Linked DNA regions of Homo sapiens: region 2 is linked to region 1. A link means that fine-mapping ties the variant in region 1 to the expression of a gene that starts in the linked region. Tissue or cell type: whole blood. Region 1 holds a variant in brackets; the other region holds the start of a gene. All regions are shown on one strand. Distances are between the middles of the regions.

What was found. PIP is the estimated chance that this variant, and not a neighbour inherited with it, causes the effect.
Region 2: NCOA2 starts here. The variant in region 1 is fine-mapped to the expression of NCOA2 in whole blood (TOPMed, PIP 0.98).

The regions. Positions count from the first base shown.
Region 1 is chr8:70,213,627-70,221,719 of GRCh38, forward strand. NCOA2 (nuclear receptor coactivator 2) reads right to left here. Exons shown (of 23, transcript NM_006540.4): 3 at 3,034-3,138; 4 at 277-449. The coding sequence starts at 3,119. Among named protein-coding and RNA genes, the nearest start is that of PRDM14, 150 kb to the left of the region's middle. RefSeq lists an enhancer at 5,906-5,955. The variant A/G (reference allele first, on the strand shown) is at 3,952.
Region 2 is chr8:70,400,050-70,408,156 of GRCh38, forward strand. It overlaps NCOA2 (nuclear receptor coactivator 2), which reads right to left and starts at 3,759. Exons shown (of 23, transcript NM_006540.4): 1 at 3,651-3,759. RefSeq lists silencers at 2,356-3,015, 3,046-3,335, 3,376-3,685, 4,376-4,535 and an enhancer at 4,156-4,275.

The sequences.
Region 1 (8,093 bases):
AGAATTGTGGGCACCTAACTGAGTTTACTAGATGAAAAGTTCCATCACCCTGACTCACCTCAGTCTTCTCTGTCTTTAGGGTATGGCTGAATTTTATACAAAGCCTATTTATAAACCACTGCAAGTGATACTTGCATTCATCTTACACTGTGACATCATTTCCTCATCAATAATTTAAGCATAAGAAATGGATTAAAGGGACTCTGAAGGGACTTCTCACACAGGGAAAAACAGAAACCAATTCAACTCTTCAAAATACTAATTCAGTCCTCTTACCTTGTTCTTTGATCTGACGAATTTGCTTCACAGTTTCTTTTAAGATTGCACATTTGTCAGGTTTGAAGTTAAAGTTGTCTATATCATTAAAATTTGCAAAAATCAACTCTGCAAGTTCTTCTATATATTTATTTTCCTGTTCACGATTACGTTTTTCAGTGTTCCTTTTGGGGCTTAAAAGAAGAAACACATTTTTATGATGTATTTGAAAAAGAGCTATTGTGAAAAAAATGAACGTGTTAAACAAGTTTAATACAAAGATAGCAAACAAAAGCTACCTATATAAACACAGAAATACTTTTGGGGGAAAAACACAATTTTCCAAAAGTGTTCCATGTTTTTTTAAAAAAATCAACCTAAGCCTAGTTTGTAATGAAACTATCTGTTCAATGTGTTTGGCGTCTCCCACTGGACTGTCCACTTCACAGTGACCTGGACTGTGCTCACCACTGTGCTTAGTGCAGTACTTGAAACAAGTGGGCACCAAATTAGTTGACAAATAAAAGAATGTTTCAAAAAGGTAAAGGAGGTTATATTTTAAAATTTATTTAAGATTAGTAAAAGAAGAGAAGTTAACCCAGTTAATAACAGGAATAAATTTCAATAATTTTTGGTAAAACATAAAAAATAAAACCAGATATTTATAATTTTATAGACTTCTTCAGAATGTTAGTAAGCAAACCAAACAGCCTTTTTAGGTAATGCAAAAAGTCACAATACAGCTAGAAACAAAAGCGAAACTGACCCAGGAAATTTGTTAACTGTCCAAGCTGAATGACATGCAAAATATAAACAAACAGTCCAATTTCAACTAAAGTTTAAAAAGTTAATGGAATGGAAAAATATCAAAAGAGGCAAAATCTTCCATTAGAATGTGACAAAATAGTAAACTGAAAAGTTCCTTTTCATAATAACAGCATACAATTATTTTCTCAAGTGCAAAGGGGGGCCCATTAAATGACATTCAAAACAATACAATAAGGAAGAAAAGCAAGTTGCTTAATGTAGCAGCTTTCTGTATTTTTATATATAATTATTTGTATATAATACTAATTTTAAAATTTCTGGATTCACAATAGACTTTCATATATGCATCTCTAAATATGTTTGATTTTCATAAATACATACTATAATACAATGTCTCTATTTTATAGTGTTTATACAATTTGTCCAGGATCACCCCACGAATTACTGGCACAGTAATTCAGAATTTGGTTTTTTTTCTAAGTCTCATTTTTACCCGTAGCTTCTGTTTTTACAGCAAAAGGTAAAGAGTGGCTGGAATGCTTAGAATAGCCCAGTTCCCATTCTGACCCCCTCCACCACCCTCCACCCATGCCCTCTCACCCTCTCACAAGGTAAGAAATAAATGACAAATAGGTGAGAAAGGGGAGTTGTGTTCAAAAGACCCCTGAGCGCCCCAGAGGGAGGGCTCAGAGACCTGCCACTACAGCCCACAGCTGAAACAGTTCCCACTTTCTCCCACTGCCTCCCCAGGTAGGGCTCCTGACTATTAAAGGCAGTCTGACAGACAGAAGTTTGTGGTTTACCAGGAAGTAGTAGGGAACCTAGAGGAGCTGGGGGCTGGGATGTAGAGAGTGGAGATTTATTGGGCTTGATGTTTTGCTTGGCAACTAGAAGGGGAAAAGGGAATATAAAATACTGGTGTTTTGCCCTTTCTCCTGCTCTGCCTCTCTTGATGACTTTTCCTAGCCCTCTTCCCTACTATTTCATGTCTGATGCTTTTACTGTCCATTAGGTAGAAGGTGTTGTTTTTATTTAATTCTTAAAATTATTTATATGATTTAAAACATTGAAAAAGTGAAAAGTCTCTCTTCTACTTTTGGTAACTATTTGCCCAGTTCTCATCCACCGAAACAGGTAGCAACAATTATTGTTTCTTGATTATCCTAAAACAATACACATTCTTTTTTCTTCCTTGTTTATACAGATGGCAATATTCCAAAAACATTTTCTAAACCTTGCTTTTTGTCTGTAACAATATTCTTAAGAGATTTTTTTTTCATATTAACCCATAAAGAGCATCCTCATCTTTATCCTAGCTGAACTGTGTTCCAGGTTCTAGATGTACCACAGCTGTTTAACAGACATTTAGGTTTTTCCGAATCTTTTGCAATTTGAGTAACCTCATATACACGTCATTTTGCATGTGTTAAAGTATATAATAGGAAAATTCCTAAAAGTGGAATGGCTAGTTCAAACAGGATATGCATTTATAATTTTGATACTGCCAAATTACCCTACATGGGCATTATAACAACTCATACTTCCACCCATAATATATGAGATGAAATTTGCTTTAAAATTCTTTGTTTTATTCACTAAAGAGCCACAATCTTTGTTCTCAACTCAGAAGTACATGGGTTTAACATTTTATGTCTTTAAAAATAAAACAACAAAAATAAAACCCATTATAAAATTAACGGCAAATCCTTTTTACTATAGGATCTTCTTGTTATAATATTGTGTAATCAAACTCAATATTATTAAATAAATTGATTCTAAGAGTCAAAAGATATCAGAAGTTTACAGCTTTCCTCTTTTTGTAAAGAATACAATCTGTAACTGATTTGCATATTCAAAATGTAAGCAAGTACATATTCAGAGATTTAACTGTTAAGGAGAAAAACCAACTCAATATTTGAATCAGCAGTAAAATCAATGCTAAAATAACAAAGAAGCACTCATGTGGCTTTAACAGACAATACTGATTCCTTTTCTCAGCAAGAATCTAACCTGGGTCCAAGTTGGTCAGGACATTCCTTGCGCTTTCTTGTCTCTGCCCTGGAGGGGTCAGAGGTATTTTCTCCCATCCCACTCATCTTGAACACATATCAGCAACTAAAACAGAAAACAGAGAAGAGGAAGAAAAAAATGAAGAGAGCTGATGATGAAGTGTCTGATCATTTTACCAACAATAAAAGAATTTTGACTCCAATCAGAAATTTGAGACCAGTAATTAACATTGTTTTATGTGCATGTATAATTTCTAATATAAAAGCCGTCTCTTTAAAAAAATCTTTTAAGATTAAGCAAATGTAAAGGTTAACATTTAAGAAACAAACAAGCCTACCTCATTGGGCCCAAATTCTTTAAACACGAGTTGTATTTCAACAGCACCATGAACTACAATCTACCAGCTCTGGGTTTGGGCTGCCAGCCTCCAGTTTCAAGAGTGATCTTGCACCATGTGGAAACTACAGGTGTTGTAAGGGGCTCCTCCCAGTCTCTGTTTTGGGTTAGCCAATGTGAAGTCTATGCTGCAACAGCTCACCCACAACAGACAGCCCGGGGAAGAGCCAGTGCCAGGACACGAAATTGAAGGTTTTCAAATTTAACTAGGTACATCTGACACCCCTGTAGCCCCGAGTTCCTGCACAAGGCCTCTTAATCAATGCCCCCTAGTGGGGGATCTTCCTGGCCCCTCGGGAAGCTCCTGTGCCTGGCTCTCCTGCAGCAGCTGCCTGGCTGCTCCTCCATCGGTGCCCTCTCTCTGTGGCAGCTCGCCTCCCTGCACACAGCATGGTCACTTCCTCTCTCACATCCTGCCGCCTCCAAACTTTCCTTCCCTCAGCTGGTTCTGGCTGCTAACGCCAAAGGTCTTAAGATATGCCCCAGAAGTCAGGGGAACTTTACTGACCCCCAAGTGGGAAG[A/G]ACCATGATCAGCTCCTGCTTGCTGAATTCCTCTCAGTAAGAAAATAAAAAAAAATGTAAGAAAATCAGTGTGCTCGTCATCACTAACATAATCAAAATAATATTTAGGTAAGCAAGAACAAGCCAGTGACAGAGGTTTACGTACTGAAAGAGCTAAACAAAGAGACTTACAAAGACTGTGAGGAAACCATAAAAGACTGCTACTCAAGGTGTTCAATAACTGCTTACCAAAAGAAAAAACAATGCAGCAGGACAAGCTGAAATCTGCATTTAAAGTCTTTCCTAGAGCTCCTATTCGATACTACTTCCCCTTCCTTCTGGCCCCCAGACTTCTAAATCACCTTTGCCCCTCCTTTACTTTTTGTAGTGGCTTCTTTTCTTTTCTGGATAGAAAAAAAAAAAAATCAAAGGGAAGGTAAAGTGCATTAGAAGACAGAGAACTTAAGGAAGATGACAGAGGACAATCAAGAGTAAGGACAAAGAGCAAGGAGGGCTAAGGAACATAACGCGTACCAGTCAAACCGCCAGGCCACTTCTTCCCTGTAATCTGGGCTGCCCAGTCTCAGCTGTACTACAATAATTTCTTCTCGCCACTTCTGATACAATAGCGCAGTGGAGTTAGTTTTTTTTTTTTTTTTTTTAAAGAGTCATATGTAAGCAGAATGAAGAAATACTGTATCCGTTTAGGGAGGCTGCACCACTGGTACACATTTGATTCAAGAGGTGACACAGAAGGGAATAATTCTCAAAGCTGATACCCAAGCTTCTTGCTGGTTAGAGCAATGCAACCAAGTCCCAATGTCCCACACTGTGGTCACAATTTTGGCCTGATAATAAGTATAATCTGTATTTATTTACTATGAGAGAGGCAGACTATGAGAGGCAGGATAGCAGAGAAGTGAAGGGCCAGTATTCATGTCCAAGCTTCACCACTTTTAGCTATGCGAGGCTCACTTGAGACCAGGAGTTGGAGACCAGCCTGAACAACGTATCAAGATCCCATCTCTGTAACAACAACAAAACCCTAAATTCCAGAACCCTTCTCAGATGATACCTTATAGACATTCACTTTCAGTACTTCTCTCTGAATCACAATTCCCATGGTTTCAATCATGAGATGTAAGAAAAAACATTACACATCCAGTCTAAGTAACCTTTCAACAAATGACCTAGGAGATTTTCACTCTGAAAGCAGCTTTCTAGAAGTCATACAAACTTAAGAAAGTTTCTATCATTACAATATAGCCTTCAATATACAGCATAGCAAAATGCCCTATATAGTAGGTATAGGTGACAAGTTTTTTTGTTAAAATGGCTATTCCCCCCCTCAAAAGCAATGCCACATATACTAAAATGTATAGTATTATCAGAAAGATCAGAAAGCTTTCAACAGACAATTAAAGTAAGGAACTGTTTTACCTAAAGTCATATACACCCAGTTTGAGGATGATTTAACATTATATATATATTATTTGCATCATTTACCTGTGAATATTCTAAAATACATACACGAACAATTGTAACATATGAGGGACAGCACTGGGACATAGGGACCAGAGGGAGAGAGAAGAGGAGCCATTTTCTAGTCTAAGTATAGTAAAATCATTTGAGCAGACTGTTTATAATTTGCTTGTACCTACTCAAGGTTGGCTTAAAAACCACTCTATTTGTAGACTGAAAATATCATAATTTCCTCTTGAAGTAAGTTATTTAAATGCCAAGTGGTTTTCCCTTTTATTATGTAGTGGTATCTTAAACACATTTCCTCAAAATCTGCAACTTTCGGCTTGATGAACATAATTGCTTCCTTATATTTTTGTGTCTACTGCACATGTCCTCTTCTCAGAGCAACATTCCTGGGCTATGTGCCCCAGTACACACCTCCAACCCACCTTTCCACCACCAAGGGGAAAGTGGGGTGGAGTCGGGGATGCCTGGCCAAGCCAAGGAAGGATGGCTGCCTCCTGGTAACCTCCAGGAAGTGCCAACATGCAAGGATGCCCTGTCTGAATCACTGCAAATCACCCATAAAAACAAAAAGGAGACAGACCTGAGACCAAAAGTGGGGGGAGCGAATGTAACACTGACACAGGAAGGGCAGGAGGAGGGTGGAGGGGGGGCAGACAGCTGCAGTCTTAGAGCAGACACATAAATTTATGCCCTGCATTTTAGTGGGAGAGCCGAATAAATAACAGAACCTCATGAATGAGGTGCTCTAACCTAGTGGACTGTCTGATATTTCTAATGCTTATGTGAGGAGGCTGGGCTGGCAGCAAGTGTCAGTATTTCACACTGGAACAGGAGGTGGGGCCAGGTGAGTTCATTTTTCCCCCAACTCAAAATACTGGGCAATGCAGAAGTGACACAAATAAAAACCAGAGAGAGATAGATAAGTTATAAAAACGACTTTCTTCTAAGTTATATAAATTACTTTTTCTATACAAATGTACATTCTAGTGTATAGTCACTCATAGAGAAATATCTAAAATAAACTCTATGGACAGAGGAATTTTTATGCACTTTTGTAGATCGAAGTTAAAAAATTCATTTCCAGTGTAAAGGTAGGAGATGGAAAATACTAAAGAGCAGCACTGAAGGTTCTAAAATTTCATTTGGTGACCAGCTCTAAATTAATAGTTTCTTATAATTTCTGCACACTCACATGAAATTAAAATTCTTAAGCATCTCACTCTCAATGCTGAAACTGTTTAACGTAAATCACAAAAACTGAAAATGACACAAGTAAACTCTCAGGCTGTATTTGATGGTAATTACAGTCATTGAGAGCAAACCAGTTTCTACCAGATGTTGGGGGTTGTGAAAGGACAAGTCTGAAAAAAAAAGTTTCAAATCATCCATTCTTGTTATCTGTAACAACACAATAGCCCTGTTTTCACAGTGACCATACATCCTCCCTTACATCCCTTGATATCAGCTTGGATGAGCTAGACGGTAGGGAAGAGTTATAGCCTTACGATTAGTAAGTTTTATCTCTAAAAAGTAACAATATTCTGGGAGGGGTGAACAAAGCCAGTTGAATCCTTAGCATAATGACAGAAAGCAAAATAAAATGTTAAACCTCAACACAATTCAAAAATGTACTTTCATGGAATTCACCAATATAATTTATAAGGTAACAAAGCTGTTGCTCTCAATACAACCTCATACCATTAAAGCTTGTTAATCATCCATAATTTATGTAAACGATAATATGCATTTTATCTTTTATCAAGACAGCCTATCTTCCAAACAAGGCTTGTAAAACTGCCAGATGCATTATATACAGAACAAATTCAGTTAAAGAATAAGGATACTACTGCTGCTGAACTCCAAACATAATAAAGTGATCGAACATCTGATCCTGACTGCTAGCTCCAATAAATGTTCTTAAAGTTAGGCCTTCTCTGAAATTCCCCAAGTTAGAAACGACACAGAAAGAGCTACTGAAACCACTTCTCTTATGAATGTCTACTTGAAGAGGACCTGCCTGATAAATCATCTAGCTCTTGTTATGAGAACAGAAAGACTTAGAGATTTCCGAGGTTCCTTCTGAGCTCTCTTTACGATAGACATATGAAATTGTGTAATATGTAGTCTAACCCTTTACAAACTTTTAAAACCAAGAAATGCTCAAGCAATATTAAAAGTATACATAAAACCTCACTTAAATACCCTTCCATTTCTATTTAACTAAACTACAGAAGGATAATCTTTTAGAGCCCACTGTTTCTCAGAATCCCACCTCAACAGCTAAAGCTGCATCCACTATTGCTTTATCACAAATGAAAACATTTGCTCATTCTAAACTGGTAACAGTTTCTCCTTCAAAGTACACTGTGTTCCAAGAGCGATCCCTTTATAAGGATAAAAGCAAAATTTCTGGGCCAGGCTCTGATAAGTCTAAAAAACATAGTATCTAATGCTTCAATAAACAAAATGTGCTTTTTGGATGTAGATGCCTGAGAAAGAAAAGAAAGTAGGCCAAACTTGGGAAGTCAGTAAGATGATACAGAAGACATCCAGTTGCTAGAGGAAGGGAAATACCTCTTTTCAAATAGGGTTAATTGGTCGAAATTACCCAAAGCAGACATTATTTTGGCAAGATCCCAACTTCTGGCAACAGTTGAATAAATATTCTATGC
Region 2 (8,107 bases), 190 kb after region 1:
CCCTTTATCCACAGCCCAAATCCCCCTCCAAGCCTTACATTTTATATTTCCAATAAAATGCTCTTCTAACACTAAGCCACTCATCTAAATTATATTTAACCAATGAAGGGTTAAAATCCAAAACATATTAACTACTCAAAACATAATAAATCCGTAATTGGTGAGCTCCTTTTCTACCCTCCTGCTTCAGTATACTGACATCTAAAAGTCAAAGAACTCCTCTGTTTAAGACTGAAATTCCCAGGAGGAAGGAAGCTCAGATCCAGTCTGAGAGCACACAATGGAATCACAGCTGACGATGCACATCTTTTTCTAGATGTCTCCATATGCTTGAGAGGTTTTTTTCCCCCCAAGCCAGCCATTAGGAGACTTGGTTCTCTCTGCCACCAAGAATCTTACCACATTTTCAAGGATTGTTGCAAAGAATTAAGTAAAATAATGTGTTGCTCTTCAGCATACAAAAGAGAGAAGGGCATATGTCAGAGTGCCCATAAGTAACTAAATTAACAAATGGTGGGGGGTTTTGAATGTTGTCAAATTTTGAATGTTGTTTTTAATACTCCTTACCTCTCTGTCAGTCTAAGTGTTTGGTTTACCTTCTCTGTTTTTACTATTTTATTACAAAAAACATCTCAAGAGCCACAGCAAAATGCAATTAATTCTTGTCTACATGCACCCAAAATGATCCTGAATTGGGAATTCTCATGGTAAATTTGAAAACACTATATTACAACAGAACACATTTGTAAGATTTGGCAAATACTGTTCCCTAGAACTGCAGTCCCCTTCGATTCTTTCTTAGCAACCCAAGATTAATAAAAGCTTGACTTATAGAAAAGATACACATTTTCCACATAAGATACCTAAAAGAAAACACTCCCAAAATTAAATTCATGGGATACTTATGACAAAAATCAATGAATTCATTCTTAATCTAACACTTTTCATTCTTTGAGCTCCCAAAGATTCTACAAATTCCAGGTGAGAAAGGGAGCATTACTTCTGTCAGTGTGCCTAACCTCACCAACAAAGAACAGGAACACACACACACATACACACACACACACGCGCACACACACATGCTTTGTAGCAGCTGCTTTCTTTTTAAAAGACTGCTATTCCTGCAGAGCAACCTGTGATCTTTACAGAGAATCAAAGACCTCTGTTCCTAAAAGTCAAGAGTTGAGAAAGTCACTTGACTGAACGCGCAATAAACAGTTAAAACCAAAGATGTCTCCAAACCTTGTATAAACCAGAAAAGTACCCACACACTGTACAATTCAGCAGTGTTTAAGAAAATTAAAATTATTTTTAAGAATCTTTTGTGTGGGAGTAATCTGGCAAACTACATTTTACTCAGACTTTTTCCTGTAGACAAATATTCTTTGATTAGCTTTGCTCCTTAAATACCCACACTTAATGTTTCAATCAGTGATGCTTTAGTTCCCAACTTCATTTTGTTTGCAAAAAGAAAAAAAAATGCATACCATAAACCACAACTTTTTTTTTTAATGACATCCCCAATGCCGAAGTTTCAAGTACACTTTGGGAACTGGAGCTCTAATTAAACAAGAAACCAGTGAAGCCATTATGAACAATGATGCTTTCTACTACCAATAATCAGTTGACGTGATACTGCTCCCATGCCTTCATTCTCAGGGTTCCCTTTCAAATTTCATTGTCCCCATTCTGGCATAGCTGAGTGAAACCGAGATAAGAGGTAAACGGGTAACTTCTGTCTTCTGTGACCCTTAGCATGTAAACCGGACGCTGAGGTCCAGGACATGATCACTACAGCATATGCCATTTTAGAAACCGGCCTCGGTGAGTTACTGCCACATCCTAAAGTGGCTTTAGACTTCGTCGTGTCTAAGACAACGTCTATTTCGGTACGAAAGACATACAGGACCTCGAGTGCCTCGGCAGCCTCTGCGGGTCGGAGCCCCTATAAGTGACACAACCCCAGAAATCAAGGAGCGGGTGACTCGGGGATGGACAAGAGTAGCTGGCTCTCAGCGTCTCCATGACTCCCCCGCCCCGCATGCAACTCTGCTCTAACTGGTCAGGAGAAACCCCGCCCCCTTCCTTCCTCCGGTCCGCACGATTGGCTCACCGACACCCGGCAGGTCAGCTCCCTGCCTTCGATTGGCTCACTGCCCCATCAGTCAGACGCACCGAGATTCGGGTCGGTGGGAGGGGAAGGCGTCGGAGGAGGTGGAGAGGGAGTGGGATTAGAGGACGAGGTGGCGGAGGAAGGTGTTCAGGCTCGGTCTCTGGTTTGGGAAAGTTTCCCCTACCAGTGACGGACCCAGAACGCGGGAGGCCCAGTCCAGCTCCGGGCCAGCGGAAGGGGGCTCCAGTCCCCGATTCCCGCCCCTCGGTCCCGCAGGCCCCGGAAACCACTAGAGGGAGGGGAAGAGGGAGGGGCCATCTAACCAGGGACCGACCCACCCCCGGTCTCGGAAGAGGCGCCTCTGGGACTCCCCCGAGGGGAGGAGGCGGGGAGCGCAGCCGGCAGCGACGACCCCGGCCCCCTCCCCCAGCACCCCCCAGGGGCCCGAGAGGGCCGGGTCCCCGTGCCCGGGGCGTGACCGTCGCGAGGCGGCCACAGGGCCCCTCCCGCTTCCCGCCTGGGGCCCCGAGGGCCTGTCCCTTCAGGGGCGGAGAGAAGGGGGCGAGAAAAGGGGGCGCTGGCGAGCCAACCCGGAACCTCCCGGTCCGCCTCCCGCCCCCGGCCCCGGCCCCAGCGCGCCTCCTGCATACACGCCCGCACCCAGAAAGTTCAGTCAGGGGCGAGCCCGGCTCGGCGCCGCCGGGGCCCGGCCCCCGGCTCCCCGCCCCCACCACGGCCCGGCCTGCTCGGCCCCAGCGCGCCGCCCGCCCCGCCCGCCGCAGCTCCTTCCCGTCCGCCCGCGGTGCTCGGCGCCCCTCGCCCCCCACCCCCGGGGCTGACACGGGCCCGGGCCACCCGCCGGGCCGCGGCTCCCCTTCCCCGCCCCGCGCTGCAGCTCGCCGGCCGCCCCGACACCCCGCTTCACCTTCACACACCCCCAGCACTTCCCGAGTCCTGCCTCCCCTCGCCCGGCTCCCACTCTCCGCTGCAGCCGCTCCGCGCTTCCATTAAAGAATGCACCTTCCCAGGATTCACCTTCTCGGCTCTGCCGCGCTGCCCCCGAGGGGTTAGAGCCTCGGTCTCCGCCGACCCCGCACCGGGCTGGGCAATGGGCACTCGCTCCTCGGGGCGGGGGCCGCGCCCGCACCCCCGGCCGCGCCTCGGCGCTCACCTCTCGCCCGCGCCGCGGGCTGCAGCCTCCGCCCGCCTCGCGCTCCGGGACTCGTCTCCTGAGCTCTCGCAAGGCGCTGGAGCGCCTCCTTTCTCTCCCGGGGACTCCGCGTCTCCCCGTCGCTTCCCGCCCTCCCCACCCCCAAGCCCCAACTCCCCAGCGTCGCTGCGCCTCCGGGATGCAACTCCCGTTTTCCGCGCACTCCGGCGGCGGTCCCCGCACACAAAAACAGCCTCTCGGAGGCGCACGGCTCTGTCGGAGCTCGGCGCAGGAAGGGCAGTCGCGGCCGGGGGTGGGGACGCGGCGCCCCCCGCCTGCCGCCCGCCCCCCGCCCGCCCTCGCGGCCCCGGGGGAAGGCGCGGTTACCGGCTCGGGTCGGTCACGCCGTCAGGTGCCGGCTGCCGTCGGCGCTGACCTTCGCCGCCGAAGCTGTAGCCGAGGCTGCGGCCGCCATGTTCCCGTGTTAATAACTGCTGCCTGGTTGTTTATTTCAATGGAGATCCTCCCCCAACTCCCTCCTCCTCCTCCTCCTCCTCCTCCTCCTCCGCGTCTCCGCACTTGCGGAGAGACAGACAGCGCGAGCTCGCGAGCAGGGGAGGGGGCTCGGGAGCCAGGCCGTCCCTCCCTCTGCCTCCCCGGCAGTGGCCGCCGCCAAGTCCTGTCACCGGGAAAAGGACGGGGCGGAAACTTGCCTCTCGCGCCCCCGAGGAAGGGGCAAAGGTGGACGCAGGGTTGTCCGGGGAGCAGCCCCTGGCCGCGGGGTCCGCAGCATCTCCGTCGGCAGAGTCCTCTGAGAAGGCGGCCCGGGGAGAGGTGAAGAAGAGTAAGGGGACAGGGGACAAAATGGGTGACTGTGGTAGAGGGAGGGTGACCTAGAGGTGACTGGAACTGAAGAGAGAGTCAACAGAGGACTGCATGGGAGGGCAAAGGGCAATGCCAAAAAGAAAACTAGCGACTGGGACGGGCCTGGGCCGCTGAGTTAGAGGCAGTGGGGCCTGGGGGCTGCAGACGGCAGGGACGGTGCCCCAGGACGAAGATCGGGGAGAGCCGAGTTCCAGGGTCGCCAGCAGAGGACCCTCGCGCCCGTCCGGCCGGACCCTTCGGCCAGCACCCTGCACCCCCTCGGGCGCACCTCACCCTACCCAACTCCCGGTCCTGCCGCTGCTCCCCGGAGGCGCCCCGCATCCGTCAAGTCCCCTACGGCTCCAACAGGGAGAGGCTTCTCCCATTGCAGTCCTAGCTCCAGAGGGGATGGAGAGGCGCGACTGTGGGAGCTGGAAGGGGCACCACCCGGCAATTGCGGGATAAAGCAAATGCTGCACACAGAGTGTGAAACTTAACCTGGTTGAGAATTTTCGGCACATCATGAAATCATAAGTTTGTATTGGAAAGTCCATTCTCTAGACATCCGTGAACAAAGTACTGAGGGGACGTAGGAGATTGGCACTGAAAATGCGAGAACCCCCATTTAAGTGTTACTTAGACCAATCTGTTTTACGCTTTGGAAAAGCAAGTTTTTTTTCCAACTTATACGGTAATTAGTTGAAAAAAAAAACTTTTGTTTAATGGCAGTTATCAAACTATGAGAGGAACATATTCCCTGATTTTAATCTTATAATGAGAAAGGTCACTTGCGGTAGACAATAAGAGTGTTTATTGAACACTTACTGTGAATCTGACTGTGCTAGGTGATGTATATATGCTATAGGCCTTAATCCTCAAACCTTCCGAAGTCATTGCCGCTTTTCACTTCACACAAAAAATTGAAGCTTAAAGTAATTTGCCCAGGGTCACAGCCAGTAGTTGGAGAGGATGTGAGCCCAGTTCTGGTGAGCTCCAAAGCCCATGCTTTTAAACATGTCTTCATCCTAAAATTTGTGGGTGTACCGCCAATTTTATTTGGGAAAAGAATAAAAAAAATGTGTGGGGTGTGTGTGTCTGTGTTTGTTTGTGGATAGAAAATGCTTGGAAGCCTATAACAACAAATGTTAGCGCTGGGGAGTGTAAGAAGTGGGTGATGAGGCACTTCCACTTTTTATTTTGCACACCTATCTAATGTTTGAAATGTTTGCATTGACTATGTATTAATGTATATTTTTAAAGGTTTTTTTTTTTTTTTTTTTTTTTTTTTTTTAGCTAGCTGGAATAATAGAATTATGTTCCCAAAGCGTTGAGAGGAAATGGAGAGTTTGTTTATGGCCTATCTTCTGCTAATACCAGTCTGTAGCTTGTCTACAATGGGGTAGTAGTCACCTGAGGTTTGTCACAATTCTGAACTCCCGATTTGCTTTCCTGTCCTCACCCCCAACTGTGAGTTATCAGGAGTTGTGATAATAAATAAATAAATAAATAAAAATTTAAAAAAAAGATTCTCCTTCTTGCTTGCTATCCCTCCCATTTTGGCAGAAGTCCAGAGTCTATCAGTCCTCTGCAATCGTAGATTTCACACTTTTTAAAACTACCCATGATACCTCTGCAAACAAATGACTCCCCCCATTGCATTCCCGTATTACCCAATAAAACGTCTTACGACGGCTGAAGACTTTTTCTTACAAGAAATAAACAAAAACGTCTGACAGCATAGTAGATGAGTTCCATGCCCAAGTGCTACTCAATTGCCTGAGCTTGAATTGAATTGTGTGACTTAAACGCGCTCTGGTACAATCTCTGGGTGCCCTCTGAACTTCAGGCTCTTGCTGTAACAGTAGTCTGTCTTGCACTAGAGTTGTTTATATGTTTGTCTTTCTCTTTCACTAGATTGTAAGTGCAACAGAGCCCAAGACCTAGTCTTGTTCTTGTTTGTACATGCTATAGCACCTAACAAGGAATGTATGATGTTTGTTGTTTCATTGAATTTGTGAAATATAAATAATAGTATCTATTCCGATCCTCATGTCCTCTTCCCCACCTCATCTTCCAATCCCTTGCTCATAAAACATGTTTATAAAAAACATCTTCCATACTTAGAAAGAACTTTGATTCCCATGAGACCTCAGAACAATTGTTTATTAAAACTAGCCATAATTTTTAGTGAATCATCACTATGATAATGTAAAATGAAAAGGTAGAGGAGGCGGTAAATAAGTTGGCTCAATGACACAAATTAAGAAAGGAAGAAGAAGGAAAGAAAAAAGAAGGCAAAGATATAGGAACTAGGTATATTACCAAGAGAGAACAACAAGGAAAAAATATGTGGGTGCAGATCATAAAGGGGAAGGAAATTATTGAAATTTAGTGGAAGTAGAAATAACATACCGTGAATGGATGAGGCAAGGAAACACCAAAAATGTCAGCAGAATCATAAATGCAGCATGGAAAAGTAAAGAAAATGACAAATTATATATTTAACAATATAACCTAGGAATAATCAGAACAATATGACTGCTACAAGACAAGAATTTCTATTTTTGTCTGCCTTTTCTTCCACAGTTTTCAAAGTACTCACTTTTTTCATAAGTAAACTGCATAAAAGTGGGAGATTCTATACTATTTTTGAGTTAATACTACTAGCATACATCATGAGATTAGAGGTAACAGTATGGTAAAAAAGAGCTATAGAATATAAGCAAATAAATATGATGTGAAGTGGTCTCTGTAAGTTACTGTGTGACCTCAAACAAGTCACTAAATATCGCAATTTCCTCATCTGTGTAATTGTTGCAAGACTCAAAATGGTGTAAATAAATGTACTTTGTTAACTATCAAGCTCTTTATACAGATGTAAGGGAATATTATTATGTCAGCTAATATGTAGCACAGTTATCTCTGTTTTGGTGCATTCCTAAATTGCCAAAGCAAAAATCTATAGTTCATTCTATTAAAATGTAATCATAGGGTGGGGGCGTCAGTTAAAACATTTGTTTGTCAATTTGATTATTGAACGACTGTGATGAAATGTTTCATTCTTATTGTTTGCTCTCTTCTAAATCCCTTAAATAGTATAACTACAATAAACAAATGTCTAATATAAGTCAAGCATATTACATAAATTTTTTCCTTACTGAAGTAGTCATTGTATGTATATTATTCTCATTTTATGTACAATAAAGCTGAGCTTCAGAGACTTCAAGTAAATTAATGCAAAGTCATAGAACTGCCTTCGCTGCATATCTAAGATTGTGTTAGGATTCTACTCTTCATCACTTGTATTTCTACTACTCTGAGAAACACATTGGCTGGGCGCAGTGGCTCACGCCTGTAATCACAGCACTTTGGGAGGCCGAGGCAGGCAGATCACGAGGTTAAGAGATTGAGACCATCCTGGCCAACATGGTGAAACCCCGTCTGTACTAAAAATACAAAAAAAAAAAAAAATTAGCTGGGTGTGGTGGCGCGCTCCTGTAGTCCCAGCTACTTGGGAGGCTGAGGCAGGAGAATTGTTTGAACCGGGAGGCGGAGGTTGCAGTGAGCCAAGATCGCACCACTGCACTACAGCCTGGTGACAGAGCAAGACTCTGTCTCCTAGAACATAATGCATACTCAATAAATGATCATGAAAAGAATGAATAAATGAATGAATGGGCTCCCTTCAAGTCATACTGTACACTGTCACAGGATTGATCCCCTCAGTCTTATTTTGTTACTTTCCCACTTGAAAACACTTAATGATCCTTCATTAACTATGGAATACAATTCAAATCCTTCATCTTAGATTAAGAACCTCTTTGATATACCCCCTCTATTCATACCTCCCTTATTTCTCCCCCTCTATTCATACCTCCCTTATTTCTCAAGCAAAAACAAATATTAATACACCCACACTCATTCCAGGGTATTCTGAGTGAGATTGACATGAGTTTCAATCTTGGCTCTTACTAACTGGG